Regions from separate parts of the Homo sapiens genome. Here region 2 is linked to region 1. A link means that fine-mapping ties the variant in region 1 to the expression of a gene that starts in the linked region. Tissue or cell type: iPS cells. Region 1 holds a variant in brackets; the other region holds the start of a gene. All regions are shown on one strand. Distances are between the middles of the regions.

Region 1 (8,102 bases):
GCCAACCTGTGGCCTTCATCAGGCCTCAGTCTCCCCATTTGTCCAACCGGGGGGTTAGGTGAGATTGTCTCCAAGCGCCCTGACCAGCCACACTTCCAGTCAGTCGGCGCCATCCGGGGACATGGGGCAGGCAGAGGAGCAAGGAAGTCCCTTTGCTGGGGGAGCCCAGAGCCCACCAGCTGAGGCAGGATACTTGGTGCATGTGGGGAGGCGGGGCTGGCGGAGCGTGAGCGGCCCCCGCTGGCCTCCAGCACCCAGCTGGTGCCGCGGCAGCCCTGTCCACTCCAGTGTCTGCATGGCGCCGCCTCCTTAGCCAGGCCTTACCTTCTGGCCGCATTTCCCCCACACCAGACCACCCCTTGGGCTGCAGCTGGACTGGCCTTGGTGAATGGCAGATCTCACTGTTCCCCTCCTCTGCCAGGTGCTAGGTAGAGCCTCACTGTGAATCTCATGGCTGGCCACAGCCTCACCCCGACCCCACCCCACCCCACCCCAGCACAGTGTGCTCTCCCTGAGCCCCTTTCCATAGCAGTGCTGTTGCTGCAGTGCCGAGCTTTGCCCATGCTGTCCAGAGCTTGTTTGGCCAGTGGCCCCAGCCCCCGTCTGCGCCTGAGCCCTTTGTGTCCTTCCTGCCCCCTGGTCAGAGTAGTTCCCTCTGTATCCCTGGCAGCCCCTGTGCTATCCTAAGCCTGGGCATGTGCCTCTTGCCCTTGTTGGTCAGAGCAAAATGCCTTTTCCCAGCTTGTTGCCCAACCTCCAGCACAGGCCTCAGTCTGCCCCCTGGGTCTTGTCCAAGGTGACTGATTAACTATGTAGTGACATGCACGGACCCTCTTCCCTCAGCTCCCAGCCAAATGGTCTGGGATGCCCGGCCTGGCGCAGATCCTGGCCTGTTCACTGGCTTCAGGCCAGAGGTGTTGTCAGGCCTGGTCCTGGCTGCGTCCCGCACTTGCCCAGTCCCCCAGAGTCTTGCCTCAGTTTCTTCCTTTGCAGTGAAACTAATGATATTGAGGGCAACAACAGCCAGCTCAGGCGCAGTGGCTCCCATCTGTAATCCCAGCACTTTGGGAAGCTGAGGCAACTGGATCACTTGAGCCCGGGAGTTCAAGGCCAGCCTGGGCAACATTCGTGAAACCCCATCTCTACAAAAAATACAAAGTTAGCCGGGTGTGGTGGTGTGTACCTGTGGTCCCAGCTACTTGGGAGGATGAGGTAGGAGGACCACCTGAGCCTGGGAAGTCGAGGATGCAGGGAGCCATGATTCCAGGACTGTACTCCAGCCTGGGCAACAAAGAGAGGCCCTGTCTCAAGAAAAAAACAACCAGCCTGGCGCGGTGGCTCACGCCTATAATCCCAGCACTTTGGGAGGCCGAGGTGGGAGGATCACGAGGTCAGGAGATCAAGACCATCCTGGCTAACATGGTGAAACCCTGTCTCTACTAAAAATACAAAAAATTAGCTGGGCATGGTGGTGGGCGTCTGTAGTCCCAGCTACTCGGGAGGCTGAGGCAGGAGAATGGCGTGAACTCGGGAGGCGGAGCTTGCAGTGAGCCGAGATCGCACCACTGCACTCCAGCCTGGGTGACAGAGCGAGACTCCGTCTCAAAAAAAAAAGAAAAAGAAAAAGAAAAAAAGCAACCAAAAAAACAATGGCTAGCCATTTACTTATGATCCAGATTGGACTCTAGTGGGCCAGTCCTATGTGGCCACTGGCAGCCAGTAAGGATTCCCTGGCCTATGTCTGCTGGAAGGGCCCTTGGAGAGCCTGGCTGAGGGGGCCTTCATTCTGGCCAGCTCTGGGCTGTGTGGCGTTGGGTGCCTGGCTCTCTGAGCCTCTCGCACCTCCCATCCCCACCCACGGTGTGCAGAAGGCAGAGGGCTAATGTCTCTCTTGCTGAGTCGTTGTGCAAATTAACAAAAATGAGTCTGGCACCAAAATGGCCCCCACACTTGGAAAACAGGCCAAGAGGCATCCACCGACCTGCTGACCCCTCTTTCCCCGCAGGCCCAACAGCGCCCTGGAATCCTGCTCCTTCGCCCGCCACAGTCTGCTGCAGACGCTGTACAAGGTCTAGACTCAAAGCCTCTCCCATCCCTTGGCCTGGACCAGTGAGCTGGGGAGGGACTCGGATGAACTGAGGCGCAGCCTACGCCATTGCCTTGGACAGGACTCTGGCCACAGGCAGGGCGGGTCTGTGTCCCATGTGTCCTGTCAGTCCCCTGAGTATGTGTGTGGGTGTGGCGCATGTGCAGGTCTGTGCCTCCTGTCGGGATTTGGGTTTTAACGTCTTCTGCTGGCCCAGCCCTGCTCTGTTGTGGGGAGTTGGCCCCCAGGGGAAAGGGCTGTGAGCTGCTCCGCCATTAAACTCACCTCCACCTGAGGGCGCTCTGCTGATCTCCGCCTGGGCCCTGATGGCCGTCCCCACCCACCTGCCTTCCGGCCCGGCTCCCTGGCGGAGCCAGAACCCAGGGAGTTGCCCGCGTGCTGTCCTTCCCCTCTGTGTTGTGATTGGGTTGTTTCCTGCCCTGCCTGGGGCTGCTTCTCGTCACCAAGCCCTGGTCCTGCGGCAGCTGTCACCCCTACCATCCATACCACTGTGCTGACCGCTCAGCCTGAAGAGCAGAGAATGCCATGGGTGGGACTGTGGGGGTCGGATCGTGGGGTTGTTGGCAGAGGGCAACCCTGGGCCCCACACCGTGTGGACAGGCAGACACCAGATTGTCCAGGAGCAGGAGCTGCTGGGACTGCGCTGGCCCCGGACCTAGTGGGCCTTCTCCTGGCTGCTGAGATGTCGTCTGTGACTGGCCTGGCTGGAGGGGGAGTGTTGACAACCCAAAGCTGTTCTCCAGTCTGGGGAGGGAGAGGCAGGGTCCCCAATGTCCGAGCTGCATCTGGACGCTGCTCTTAAAGGACCTCCTGGGGCAGGGGAGCGGTAGGGTCTGGACTGGGCAGATGCTGTATGACCTCCCTGAGCACCCGTGACTGCCCCATGCTTTCCCCTTTGTGCTCTGTGTGTGTCTGGGCTGTGCCCGGGGGCTTCACAAATAAAGTCGTGTGGCAGCTTCAGAGACTCAGAAACTCTCACTGAAAGCGGGATAGTCTCGGGGGCCGTTGTACGTGGAGTCCCACCTCGGCAGAGCATGCGGCCCCGCAGCAGTCTGTGGGGCAGTCAGCCCTGCAGAAGGGCCCGGCCTCGGCCTCAGGCCACTACCTGGGAAGTGGCAGTCCTGAGTGGGGGCCCATTTTCCTGCCTGGCCACACCTCACCCAGCACCCTGCCTTTGGGCTGCAGCTCGCTTGGCTTCTGCGTTGCTCCTTCACTATGGAAGCCACCTCCCTTGGGATCCTTTGCTCCACTGCCACATATGTGAGGACAGCCCAGCCAACCTTCCTTACCTCCTACCCTACACCATGTATGTGCTTTGGGAGCCCATGTCCCCCACAAACGGCCTCCAAGAAGTCCCTCCAAGGTTTCTTAGAGGGCAATATTTTCTCATTGGCAGTCGGCCACGTAGGTGACCAGGTGGCAGAGGATACTGCTGGCCCTGTCCCCTGTCTTCTGTGTGAGTTGATACGGTAGGGGGTGGGTGTGGGGCTGGCATTAAGTTCTGATGCCAGCTACAACGTGGATGAACTTTGAAAACATGTTAAATGAAATAAGCCAGACACAAAAGGACAAATATGATTCCATTTAGATGAGGCATCTAGAATAAGCAAATTCAGAGACAAGAAGGTAGAGGTTGCCAGGGCTAGGGGAAGGGTGGAATAGGGAGTGAGGCTGCAAACAGATTCTCTGGGATGATGAAGATGTTCTGGAAATGGAGAGTGGTGATGGTTGCATAACATTGTGAATGTACTTAATGCACTGAATTGTACACATAAAAATGGTTAAAATGATAGATTTCATGTATTAATATATTTTACCTCAGTTAATGTTTTAAAAATTAAGCAAAACTATAGAGCTTCACCCGGGTGTGGTGGCTCACGCCTGTAGTAATCCTAGCACTTTGGGAGGACGAGGCGGGCAGATCACTTGAGCCCAGGAATTCAAGACTGGCCTGGCCAACATGGCAAAACCCTGTCTCTACTAAAAATACAAAAATGAGCTGGGTGTGGTGATGCATGCCTGTAGTCTCAGCTACTTGGGAACCTGAGGTGGGAGGATCACCTGAGCCCAAGAAGTGGATGCTGCAGCAAGCCGTGATCGTGCCACTGCACTCCAGCATGACTGACAGCGAGACCCTGTCTCAAAAAAGAGAGAGAGAGCTTGTAGGAGATAGTGTAAGTGAGTATCTTCAAGGCCTTAGGAGTGAGGAAAAGATGAATAAATTAAGCTGTATTTAACCTCCTTTGCCATTATCGTGGGATGTTCACACAATGGAAATGATGTAGCAGTGAGAACAGGTTTCTGTTTATCAAAATACTCATTAAGGAGTACAAAGGCAACTTACAGACAGGGAGAAAATAATTGCCTAAACTCTCTCTGTATATATATATGGGTGGGGGGGATAACTTTAATTTTTTTCAAACAGGGTCTCATGTTGCCCAGCTTCTATCTCGGCTCACTGCAGCCTCTACCCCCCGGGCTCAGGTGATCCTCCCAGAGAAACATAATCACAGTGTGACACTCTTATGCCCTCACTAGAATGGCTAAAATACAAAATACAGTACCAAGTTTGGTGAGGATTTGGGGCAACTGGAGTGGCTGGCAGATGTGTAAATTGGTACAACCTTTTTTTTTTTTTTTTTTTTTTT[TG/G]AGACAGGGTCTTGCCATGTCACCCAGGCTGGGGTGCAGTGGTGTGATCACAGCTCACTGCAGCCTCGACCTCCTGGGCTCACTTAGTCTTCGTGCCTCAGCCTCCCAAGTAGCTGGGACCATGTCACAAGCCACCACGTTCAGCTTTTTTTTGTAAAGACAGGGTCTCATTGTGTTGTCCAGGCTGGTCTTGAATTATTGGGCTCAAGTGATCCTCCCGCCTCAGCTCACTTAACAGGCATGAACCACCATGCCCGGCTACAGTGCTCTTTCTAATAAACCCATGCTGGAAACAACCCAAATGTCTATCACTAGAGGAATGGGTAAGCTACTTGTGGTACGGTGTGGTACCGAGAAGGTAGGAATGGTCTGCCCAAGAAGAAATATTTTAGCATTGACATTGTTTAGACTTGTCAGCACATGATAATAAAAAGCAGAGACCAACTTTAAGTCAGTTCCATTGTGTCTCACTTCTCCACTGACAGCACACCCGCTTACTGCCTGCATTGTGGGCAGACTGCCTCCCGCCCCTGCCCCATGCCACTGTTGTCATATATTTATAGAATGGAAGGCTGGAATGCTGAATTTAAAAAAAAAATTAAAATAGATGAAGCCGGGTGCGGGCTCACACCTGTAAATCCTAGGACTTTGGGAGGTTGAGGCGGGCGGATCACTTGAGGTCAGGAGTTTGTGACCTGCCTGGCCAATATGGTGAGACCCGTCTCTACTAAAAATACAAAAATTAGCTGGGTGTGGTGGCGGGTGCCTGTAATCCCAGCTACTCGGGAAGCTGAAGCAGAATTCCTTGAACCTGGGAGGCGGAGGTTGCAGTGAGCTGAGATCACGCCACTGTACTCTAGCCTGGGCAACGAGAGCTAGACTCCGTCTCAAAAAAAAAATAAAAAGATGATTCTCACTAACATAATATTGAGTGGAAAACGCCAGACACAGCCAGGTGCAGTGGCTCATGCCTGTAATCCTAACGCTTTGGGAGGCCGAGGTGGGAGGATCACTTGTGCCCCGGAGTTCAAGACCAGCCTGGACAACATAGCAAGACCCCAACTCTACAACAAATTTTAAAACCAGCTGGAGGTGGCGGTGCATATCTGGAGGTCCCAGCTGCTTGGGAGGCTGGTATGTCAAGGCCGCAGTGAGCCATGATCACACTTCACTCACACCTGGGCAACAGTGAGACCCTGTCTCAAAAAAAGGACGAAAGAGCACACTGAAGTTCCATTGATTGGAATTTGCCAAGCAAAAAAAGCACAAAGCAGATGGCTGTGTGGCATGGCACTATTTCTTTTTTTAAAATGTTACTGCAGGGCTGGGCGTGGTGACTCATGCCTGTAATCCCAGCACTTTGGGAGATCAAGGCGGGCAGATCACTTGAGGTCAGGAGTTCGGGACCGGCCTGGCCAACATGGCGAAACCCCGTCTCTACTAAAAATGCAAAAATTAACCAGATGTGGTGGTACACATCTGTCATCCCAGCTACTTGGGAAGCTGAGGCAGGAGAATCGCATGAACCAGGGAGGTGGAGGTTGCAGTGAGCTCCAGCCTGGGCGATAAAGTGAGACTCTGTCTCAAAAAACAAAAAACTCCTGCAGTCTAGGAAAAGTACACACAGATGTTCATTGTTTAACATATATAAATATATATAAACATATACATTTATATTTTTATTATATATAAATATATACACACATAAGTGTATACACACACACATACATATATATATATATATATATATATATATATATATATATATATATATATATGTATATATTTTTTTTCTTTTTTGAGACAGTTTCACTCTGTTGCCCAGGCTAGAGTGCAGTGGCGCCATCTCGGCTCTCGCGTTCATGCCATTTGCCTGCCTCAGCCTCCCAAGTAGCTGGGACTACAGGCGCCTGCCACCACACCCGGCTAATTTTTTGTACTTTTAGTAGAGATAGGGTTTCACTGTGTTAGCCAGGATGGTCTTGATCTCGACCTCGTGATCCACCCGCCTCCGCCTCCCAAAGTGCTGGGATTACAGGCGTGAGCCACCGCGCCCGGCCTTTTTTTTTTCTCTTGAGACAGAGTCTGTGTTGCCCAGGCTGGTCTCAAACTCCTGGGCTCAAGTGATCCTCCCACCTCAGCCTCCCAAAGTGCTGGGATTACAGGCATGAGCCACTGTGCCTGACCCCTGTTTCCAATTAAAGGAACAAACAGTAGAAGATGCAATTCCATCAGAAGCAGGAATCTGAAAAATCAAGATACATGAACATTGGCCATGGTCTGGATGTATTATTTAAAAAACAAACACGAGCTTGGGAAGATGCGTATTTGGATATTCTTTGCAATATTGTTTGTAAATAGCAAAAAATTGGAGGTAGCCAATGTCCAAGATGAATGGCTAAGTCAATGTGATACATTTACACAATGGAATACTATATACCACAGAATAATGAGATTCGGAAGAGTCAATTTGGATAACTCCCAGTAATCTGAGGTTAAGTGAAAAAAATGAGTGTCTAGAATCCTGTGTGTCCAGTATTAAACTATTTATGTCAATGTGTAAGCACAAACGGAAGGAAAGGGTCACCTGTTCTGAAGCACCCACTGTGTGCCAGGTGCGGGCCTGAACCCCCACTGTGACCTCAGAGCTACTTATTAATGGGATGTGTTTTTCAGAGACTAGGAAGCAGCCTCTGGGAGGGCAGCCCACATGGCAGGAGGGAGCCCAGGACTGCTGACTCCCGGGCCAGCTGCTGGTGCCCCCTCCCTGTCGGGCTGGCCCAAGGATTCAGGCCGGGGCCTCAGTCCTCGGCTGGGGCAGGCAGGAGGCCCTGTAACTCCAGCCGCTGCTCCCGCCCGCCGCCCGCCCCTTCTTCACCTCAGCCTGGGGAAGCCTGGCTTGCCTGGTCTGCCGACAATGCCTCCCATTCAGCCCTGTCCCAGCTGCCAGGCCTGCGGGCCGTGGAGGGGGGCTCCTGCCAGGCGGGGACAGCCTGTCCCTGCGCTGCGCCTCCAGGCTGGACCAGCAGTTCCAGGCGGCATGGAGGGGTGAGTCTTTGGGCCCGATGGTGCAAGGGGGGATTCAGAGCAGCTCAGTGGCCTCAGGTAAGTCTCTGCCCCCTCTGGGCCTCTCAGAGGCTGGCGGGCAGGGGCTCTGGGGACTTCCTGGGGTTCTCCAGGAAGGGGGTCTCCCAAGGTGGGCTCTGAGACACGTGGCAATGTGGCCACTGCCAGGAACTGGTCCTCTGGGGCTTGTCTGAGAGCCCAGCAGTGGTCCCTGCATTATGAATGCTTGTCGCTTCAGCGATCTGTCCCCATGGGTCCCCTCCCTGGCCTGCCCTGAGGC
Region 2 (8,102 bases), 42 kb before region 1:
TACTCGGGAGTCTTAGGCAGGAGAATCGTTTGAACCCGGGAGGCAGAGGTTACAGTGAGCCTTGATTGTGCCATTGCACTCCAGCCTGGGTGACAGAGTGAGACTCCATCTCAAAAAAAAAAAAAAAAAAGTAATAATAATAATAGAAAAGGACCCTAGAGACCTGTCTTCTATTCTCTTTCTCTCTCTCTCTCTCTCTCTTTTTTTTTTTTCTTTGAGACAGGGTCTTGTTCTATCATTCAGGCTGGAGTGCAGTGGCCTGACCATGGCTCACTGCAACCAACCTCCACGTTCTGGGCTCAAGGATCCTCCTGCATCAGCCTCCCTAGTAGCTGGGACTCCAAGTATGTACCACCATGCCTGGCTAATTGTTTTTAGTAGAGACAGAGTCTCACTATATTGCCCAGACTGGTCTCAAATCCTGGGCTTTAGCAATCTTCCTGCCTTGGCCTCCCACAGTGCTGGCATTACAGTTGGTTGTGAGCCACCATGCTCAGCCTTGTCTCATGTGTAAGTCACACTGTAACTTGGGCCTTAGTTCTTCATTTGTTGAAATAAGGAACAAGATAGTCTTGGATGACACTATCCATCTGTCAAAGGCCATGATTACACTTCTTGGGCCAGGCAGACTAGCTCTCAGGTGATAACTTGAAAGAGAGAAAGCTGGAGAAAGGGCTGGAAGGAGAAAGAGAGAAGATAAGTGTGTTGCTTGGAAACAGTGATGATTCTTTTTTTTGAGGCAGAATTTTGCTCTTGTTGCCTAGGCTGGAGTGCAATGGCGTGATCTCAGCTCACTGCAACCTCCGCCTCTTGGGTTCAAGAGATTCTCCTGCCCCAGCCTCCCGAGTAGCTGGGATTACAGGTGTCTGCCACCATGCCCAGCTAATTTTTTGTATTTTTAGTAGAGACAGGGTTTCACCATGTTGGCCAGGCTGGTCTCGAATTCCTGACGTCAGATGATCCACCTGCCTCGCCCTCCCGAAGTGCTGGGATTACAGGCATGAGCCACTGTGCCCGGCCAGAAACAGTGATGATTCTTGATTCTTCTGATTCACTGGGCACCCTTGGGCAAACCCCCTGTTCCTTTTCAAACCCCAGTCTCCCCATTTGTAAAGAGGTTTAAGATAGATTCAGGAGGCCGGCCACAGTGGCTCACGCCTGTACTGTACTCCCAGCACTTTGGGAGGCCGAGGTAAGTGGATCACCAGGTCAGGAGTTTGAGACCATCCTGGCCAATATGGTGAAACCGTCTCTACTAAAAATACAAAAATTAGCCGGGCGTGGTGGCGTGCACCTGTAGTCCCAGCTACTCGGGAGGCTGAGGCAGAAGAATCACTTGAACCTGGGAGGCGGAGGTTGCAGTGAGCTGAGATCGCACCACTGCACTCCAGCCTGAGCAACAGAGTGAAACTCCATCTCAAAAAAAAAAAAAAAAAAAATCAGGATATAGGAGTGACAGAATCCAGATTGCTAGGGGGTGCTGTCAGGCTGAGTTTGTGATTTTTAGCTTCGAATGTGAACACCTTCAGGCAGAACATCCACTCTCTAACTCCCCCCAAGCCCCACCAAGCCCCGACAAGCCCCATGACTTCCTGTTACCTCCCAGGTCCTTGAAGGCCACTGAATTTCTGTTGTCTAAGAATTCCCTTCCAGTTCCGAAAACCCAATGTCCTATCAGCTGGATGAGGACGGGATCAGCTAAGATGTTCCCCTGCCCACCTTCCTCTTCCCTTTGGGAGGTCTCTGTGTGAGGGCCAAGGAAAGTCTCAAGAAGTAAAATTGGAAAAGGGAGCCTGCGGATCACCCCAAGGAAAATCCAGACTGATTCGATCAGTCCTAGCTGGAAGCAGCACAGGAATAGCAGGAAGCCTATGACTCATTTTAAGCAAACATCCGGTAACCCGACTGGTATCTGGTTCAAATGGGGAAACCTGAAGCACCTATGACAGGCCAGGCCCAGAGAAGATACTGCCCAGATGGATACAGCGTCTGCTCTGGAGACCCTCCCAGGCTGAGGAGGAAACTGCCAAGAACAGTGTTAACTCTGTCAAAGAGCCCCAGAGTCCCAGGCCAACTGCTGTGGGGCTTTGCATCTTGCTGTGGGCACCTGCAGGAGGGAGAGACTCATGAAGTAGCATTTGACATGGGCCTTGTAGGTAAAAAGGAGAGGGAAGGTGGAAAGAGGATCCACATCTCAGGAACTTTGAGAACTGGGAGAGTTACACTCTGTCTAGAGCTTCAGTTTTCTCATCTCTGTGCTGGGAAGGGTGGTAATGATGCCCACTTCCCTTGTGGTGGTGAAGATTAAATGAGCTGTGTGTAAAAGGATATGGCATGATCTGTTAATTAATTAATTAATTTATTTATTTATTTAGAGACGGAGTTTCGCTCTTGTTGCCCAGGCTGGAGTGCAATGGTGCGTCTCGGCTCACTGCAACCTCCGCCTCCCGGGTTCAAGCGATTCTTCTGCCTCAGCCTCCCGAGTAGCTGGGATTCCAGGCATGCGTCACCATGCCCAGCTAATTTTATATTTTTAGTAGAGACGGGGTTTCTCCATTTTGGTCAGGCTGGTCTCAAACTCCTGACCTCAGGTGATCCGCCCGCCTCGGCCTCCCAAAGTGCTGGGATTACAGGTGTGAGCCACTGCGCCCAGCCTGCATGATCTGTTTAACTTTTTTTTTTTTTCTTTTTTCAGTTTTTGAGACAAGGTCTTGCTCTGTCGCCAGGGCTGAAATGCAGTGGTGCAATCACGGCTCACTGCAGCCTCAAGCTCCCAGGCTCCAGATCCTCCTGCCTCAGGCCCTTAGCTGAGACTACAGGCTTGCACCATCACGTCCAACTAATTTTTGTATTTTTTGTCGAGACAGGGTTTGACCATGTTGCCCAGGCTGGTCTCACACTCTCTCGCCTATAATCCCAACACTTTGGGAGGCCAAGATGGGCAACAAGAGTGAAACTCCATCTCAAAAAAAAAAAACAAAAAAAAAACGCTGTTTGTGTTTTTATGCTTAAATTCACACCTACAGAAAAGTTGCAAAAATGTTCAAAGAACTCCCATATTCTTCAACCAGATTAACTGATTAACATTTTGCCACATTTGTGTCTCTGCTTTCTCTATGTATATGTATAGGTATATTTCTTTTAACCATAAAGGTTGCAGACATCATGTCCTTTTTGTCCCTAATTATTTCAGCATTTTTTTCCAAGAACAAGGGCAGTCTCTTACATAACCCTGTACCATAATCAAAATTAATAAATTTAACATTGATACAATACTATTATCTAATATAGTCAAGTTTTGCTGTTTCAGTATTGTCCTTTATAGCAATCCCCACCCAGGATCCGATCCAGGACCATGTCTTGCATTCAGTTGTCTTTTTCGTTTCCTGTAATCGGCAACAGTTCCTCAGTTTTTCTTTGTCTTACATAATACAGACATTTCCGGAAGGGTACAGATCAGTTATTCTGTACCATGTCCCTCAGCTTGGGTTTCTCATGATTAGACTAAGGTCATGCATTATAGACCGGACGGTGACGCCGTGTTTTTCTCAGTGCATCACACAGAAAGCGTGCGATGAATGTCAGCTTGTCCTGCTGTTGATGTTAACGTGGCCGTTCAAGTGGTGTCTGCGGAGCTTCTCTACGATAGTTACTATTTCCCCTTTTTAATTATCAGGTAATTTGTGCATATTTATGTGGAAGCCTTCGAATGCCCTTTCAGTTTCATGGGACGGAAAAGAGTCTTTTCTTTCGGGAAATGGATACCTGTGTCTTGCCCAAGAGACCCAGCAGCCAGCAGTACCTGTTATCAACAAAGTTACGCGAACAAAACCTTTCCGGAAGAGCTGAGGGACCTGGGTGCAACGCATTCTGGGAATTGTAGTCTCTGGGCGCTCCCGGCTGAACACCTCCCTGCGGTCTCTGCGAGAAAGAGCCAGAAGCCACCAGGGGAGGGCGAAGAGGAGGGCGGTGGAGGACGCTCTGCGCGCGGTGCGCCATGGGACGGGTAGTTCGCGGTGCGCGCCCCATCGCGCTCCCAGATGGGGAACCGGACTACTCTACCCGAGAGGCCGCGCGAGCGGGGCGAGGGCAAGCCGGCCGGGGCCTCGAACAAATCAAATCGAAGCAAAGAAACTGCCGGCTTTCAAAATCCTCCTCCTCCGCCATCATCCGCCGCGGTGCGGAGAGCAGGTGGTGCTGGAAGCGCGTGAGGCCGGGAGCTCGAGAGAGCTAACAGACTAGCCGGCTGGACATCTGGACCGCTGGATCCGGAGGTGGCGACCCCGGCCTGACCCGGACCCTAAATCCGTCCCCGCCCCAGAGGGCGGAGGCGCGCGCTCGATTCCCCCCACGCGGCGGCGCCGCCTGTTTACGGTAGAGTCAGGGTCCCTTTCCTTTCCCCGTCACCTGCCTGGAACAGGGGTGCGGGGCGAGGAGGGCGTGGCGCCCGTGTGCGCCTTCTGCCTGCCCCCTCGGCCTTCTTCACTTAGCCTTCGACGGCCGAGCGCCCCAGGGGTGGCGGTGGGAGTGGGGTTGTTGAGCGGCGCTGGCTCCTTTCACAAATGGGGAAACTGAGGCTTAAAGGGCGTCTGACTCGCCAGAGCAGCTCAGCCTGCAGCTGCTAGCAGTGGCGTCTCATATTAGCATTGTTGTCAACCGGAGGCGGTGCGAGTCCGCCGGGGATTCCAGATGGGGCTCCTGCGCCGCCCGCCTATCATTTGCGGCCTGTATTCGCGCGTCGCTCCCGCAGAGCCACCTCCCAGCAGGCCCACGCCCGCGGGGGCCCCGGGCTGGCGCCGCTGTCCCTGGAATCGATGTGAGTCACTGCTGACGCTTTGCAGGAGCATGCATCTCACCTCAGAAAGTCTCTGACGTTGCTGCGGAGCGGGGAGAGGATGTTTCTCTATTAGCCCTTTGCTTTTGCTCTGGCGCTGATCCTTTGCTGACCTTGGACAAATCAATTTACGTTTCTGTGCTCCAGTTTCTTGGTTTATAAAGTGAGTGTGGAGGGGTGCATCTCTGTCTCGCTCTCTCTTGGACTGAGGAATGGGCCCCCGTTCAGCTGAGAAGTTCTGTCCCTATTCTATCTGGAGGCTTCACCACCACCTTTTACCCTCAAATTGTCCCATCTCAGAACTGCAAGAGATGCTGGGGTTTCAGGTTAATTTTTTTGTTGGTTTTTCTTTAAATTTTTTTATCTTTTTAGAGACGGTCTCCTTCTGTCACCCAGGCTGGAGTGTAGTGGAACGATCACCGCTGAACTGCAGCGTCGGCTTCCTGGGCTCAAGCGATCCTCCCACCTCAACCTCCCAAGTCATGGGGACTACAGATGCCATCACACCTGGCTAATTTTTAAATTTTTCTGTGGAGACAGGGTCTCATTCTGTTGCCCAGGCTTGTCTCGAACCCTGGTCTAAAGTGATCTTCCCGCCTAGCCTCCCAAAATGTTGGAATTACAGGTGTGAGTTATTGCACTGGGCTGGTTTCTGGTTAATTTATTTTTTGAAACAGGGTCTCCAGAAGTACAGCAGCAAGATCTCAGCTCACTGTAGCCTCCACCTACGGGGCTCAAGTGATCCTCCCACCTTACATCCCAGGTAGCTGGGACTGCAGGCACCTGCCACCACACCCAGCTAGTTTTTGTATTTTTAGTGGAGACAGGGTTTCGGCATACTGCCCAGGCTGGTTTCTAACTCCTGTGCTCAATCGATCCGCCCACCTCAGCCTCCGGAAATGCTGGGATTGCAGGAGTGAACCATTACACCCGACTCTGGTTAATTTTTTTTTTTTTTGAGACGGAGTTTCACTCTTGTTGCCCACGTTGGAGTGCAATGCCACGATCTCAGCTCACCCCAACATCTGCCTCCCAGATTCAAGCGATTCTCCTGCCTCAGCCTCCTGAGTAGCTGGGATTACAGGCATGTGCCACCACGCCCGGTTAATTTTGTATTTTTGGTAGAGACAGGGTTTCTCCATGTTGGCCAGGGTGGTCTCGAACTCCCGACCTCAGGTAATCCACCCACCTCAGCCTCCCAAAGTGCTGAGATTATAGGCGTGAGCTACCGCACCCGGCCTGGTTAATTTTTATTTTATTTTATTTTATTTTATTTTTTTGAGGTGAGTCTCGCTCTGTTGCCCAGGCTGGAGTGCAGTGGCGCAATCTCAGCTCACTGCAAGCTCCACCTACCGGGTTCATGCCATTCTCTTGCCTCAGCCTCCCGAGTAGCTGGGACTACAGGCCCCCGCCACCAGGCCCGGCTAATTTTTTGTATTTTTAGTGGAGACGGGTTTCACCGTGTTAGCCAGGATGGTCTCGATCTCCTGACCTCGTGATCCGCCCACCTCAGCCTCCCAAAGTACTAGGATTATAGGTGTGAGCCTTTGCGCCCGGCCCTGGCCTGGTTAATTTTTATGCAATTTCAACTGGTCGTTTCTTGAGCACCTTCTAAATGCCAGGCTCTATGTGGCAAGTAGAGTGATCCTGTCAAAATGTACGTCAGATGACATCTGCTTTCTGCTAAAAACTTCAGTGGTTTTCCTTGTCACTTATAGCGAAAGCCACTGTTCTTCAAATGGGCTTTATGACTTGGGCCCCTTGTTAACTGTCTCTTCTCTTACCTTGTTTTTTTCCTCTCTCTCTGTGCTTCAGCCCCACTGGCCCTGTTGCAGTTTCTCCAACCCTCTGCCCCTACAAGAGCCATTGCATTTGCTATTCCCTTTGCAGGAATCATGTTCCCCCAGATGTGTGCATGGCCCAATCCCTGATATCTTTATTTAACTATTTCCTAATAATGCCTTTTTGTTGTTGTTGTTAATGCCTTTTTGTTGTTGTTGTTGTTATTTGTTTGTTTTGAGTTGGAGTCTTGCTCTGTCGCCAGGCTGGAATGCAATGGCGCGATCTTGGCTCACTGCAACCTCCGCCTCCCGGGTTCAAGCAATTCTCCTGCCTCAACCTCCCGAGTAGCTGGGACTAAAGGCGTGTGCCACCACGCCCAGCTAATTTTTGTATTTTTAGTAGAGACGGGGTTTCACCATGTTGGCCTGGCTGGTCTTGAACTCCTGACCTCGTGATCCACCTGCCTCGGTCTCCCAAAGTGCTGAGATTACAGCCGTGAACCACCACTCCCGGCCCCCCAACCCCCCCCTTTTTTTTTTAAATCACATACTAAATGTGTCATTTAGAACATATGCTTCAAGAGGTCAGGGTTTATGCTTCCTTTACTGCTATACTGCTGACCTGGAACAACATCCAGCACACAGTAGTAATCAATGTGTTTTTGAATGAATGAGTGGACACCTTACCCAGGATAATAATTCATGCTTATTGATAAAGGCAGACAAACCAGGGTTATAAGTTAGAACCCAGAGGAAGCCTAGGGGTGGGAGGATTCAGGGTATCACAACTGTATCTGAGAATGAGGAGGTTGTAGGAGGAGGCCTTTCGGATAGCACCCCCTAGTTCTGCCCCTCATATCTGCTTCCTTGGTCTCTCCTGATTACTTGCTGTTTCTTTTCTTTTTTTGGAGCATCTCACAGATACGTTTATTCATACCACAAAGTAAACACTATTCAGGTATGTAGTGATGTTCCACGTTCCTGTCTAATATAGCTGGCTTCAATTTATAGGCAGTACACATTGAGACATTTAATCTCACATGTACTCCAAGTAAAGCTGGAGTACCATGAGCAGGCGCAGGAGTTCTCAAAGCTTTACTTGTTTTAAAAATTTTCATTTATTGGCCAAGCGTGGTGGCTCATGCGTGTAATCCCAGCACTTTGGGAGGCTGAGGCGAGTGGATCACGAGGTCAGGAGATCGAGACCATCCTGGCTAACACACGGTGAAACCCTGTCTCTACTAAAAATACAAAAAAATTAGCTGGACATGGTGGTGGGTGCCTGTAATCCCAGCTACTCAGGAGGCTGAGGCAGGAGAATGACATGAACCTTGGAGGCGGAGCTTGCAGTGAGCCCAGATGGCGCCACTGTGCTCCAGCCTGGGCGACTGAGCGAGACTCCGTCTCAAAAAAAAAAAATTCTTTCATTTATTTAGTTACTTTTAGAGATAGAGCCTCCCGCTGTTGCCCAGGCTGGAGTGCAGTGG

Direction of the effects. Positions count from the first base shown, and alleles are read on the strand shown. Sizes are in standard deviations (SD) of each study's normalised expression.
For the expression in iPS cells of the gene that starts at base 4,173 in region 2, allele G in region 1 goes with a higher level than allele TG (moderate effect, 0.42 SD a copy in HipSci).

The links. PIP is the estimated chance that this variant, and not a neighbour inherited with it, causes the effect.
Region 2: it holds the start of RANGAP1, and the variant in region 1 is fine-mapped to the expression of RANGAP1 in iPS cells (HipSci, PIP 0.92).

Annotation. Positions count from the first base shown.
Region 1 is chr22:41,240,576-41,248,677 of GRCh38, reverse strand. CHADL (chondroadherin like) reads left to right here and starts at 7,747. Exons shown (of 6, transcript NM_138481.2): 1 at 7,747-7,804. The coding sequence starts at 7,797. RANGAP1 (Ran GTPase activating protein 1) reads left to right here. Exons shown (of 16, transcript NM_002883.4): 16 at 2,006-3,899. The coding sequence ends at 2,075. RefSeq lists enhancers at 7,143-7,643, 7,644-8,102. The variant TG/G (reference allele first, on the strand shown) is at 4,756.
Region 2 is chr22:41,282,258-41,290,359 of GRCh38, reverse strand. RANGAP1 (Ran GTPase activating protein 1) reads left to right here and starts at 4,173. Exons shown (of 16, transcript NM_002883.4): 1 at 4,173-4,374. RefSeq lists enhancers at 171-770, 3,281-3,330, 3,651-3,720, 3,751-3,970, 4,401-4,470.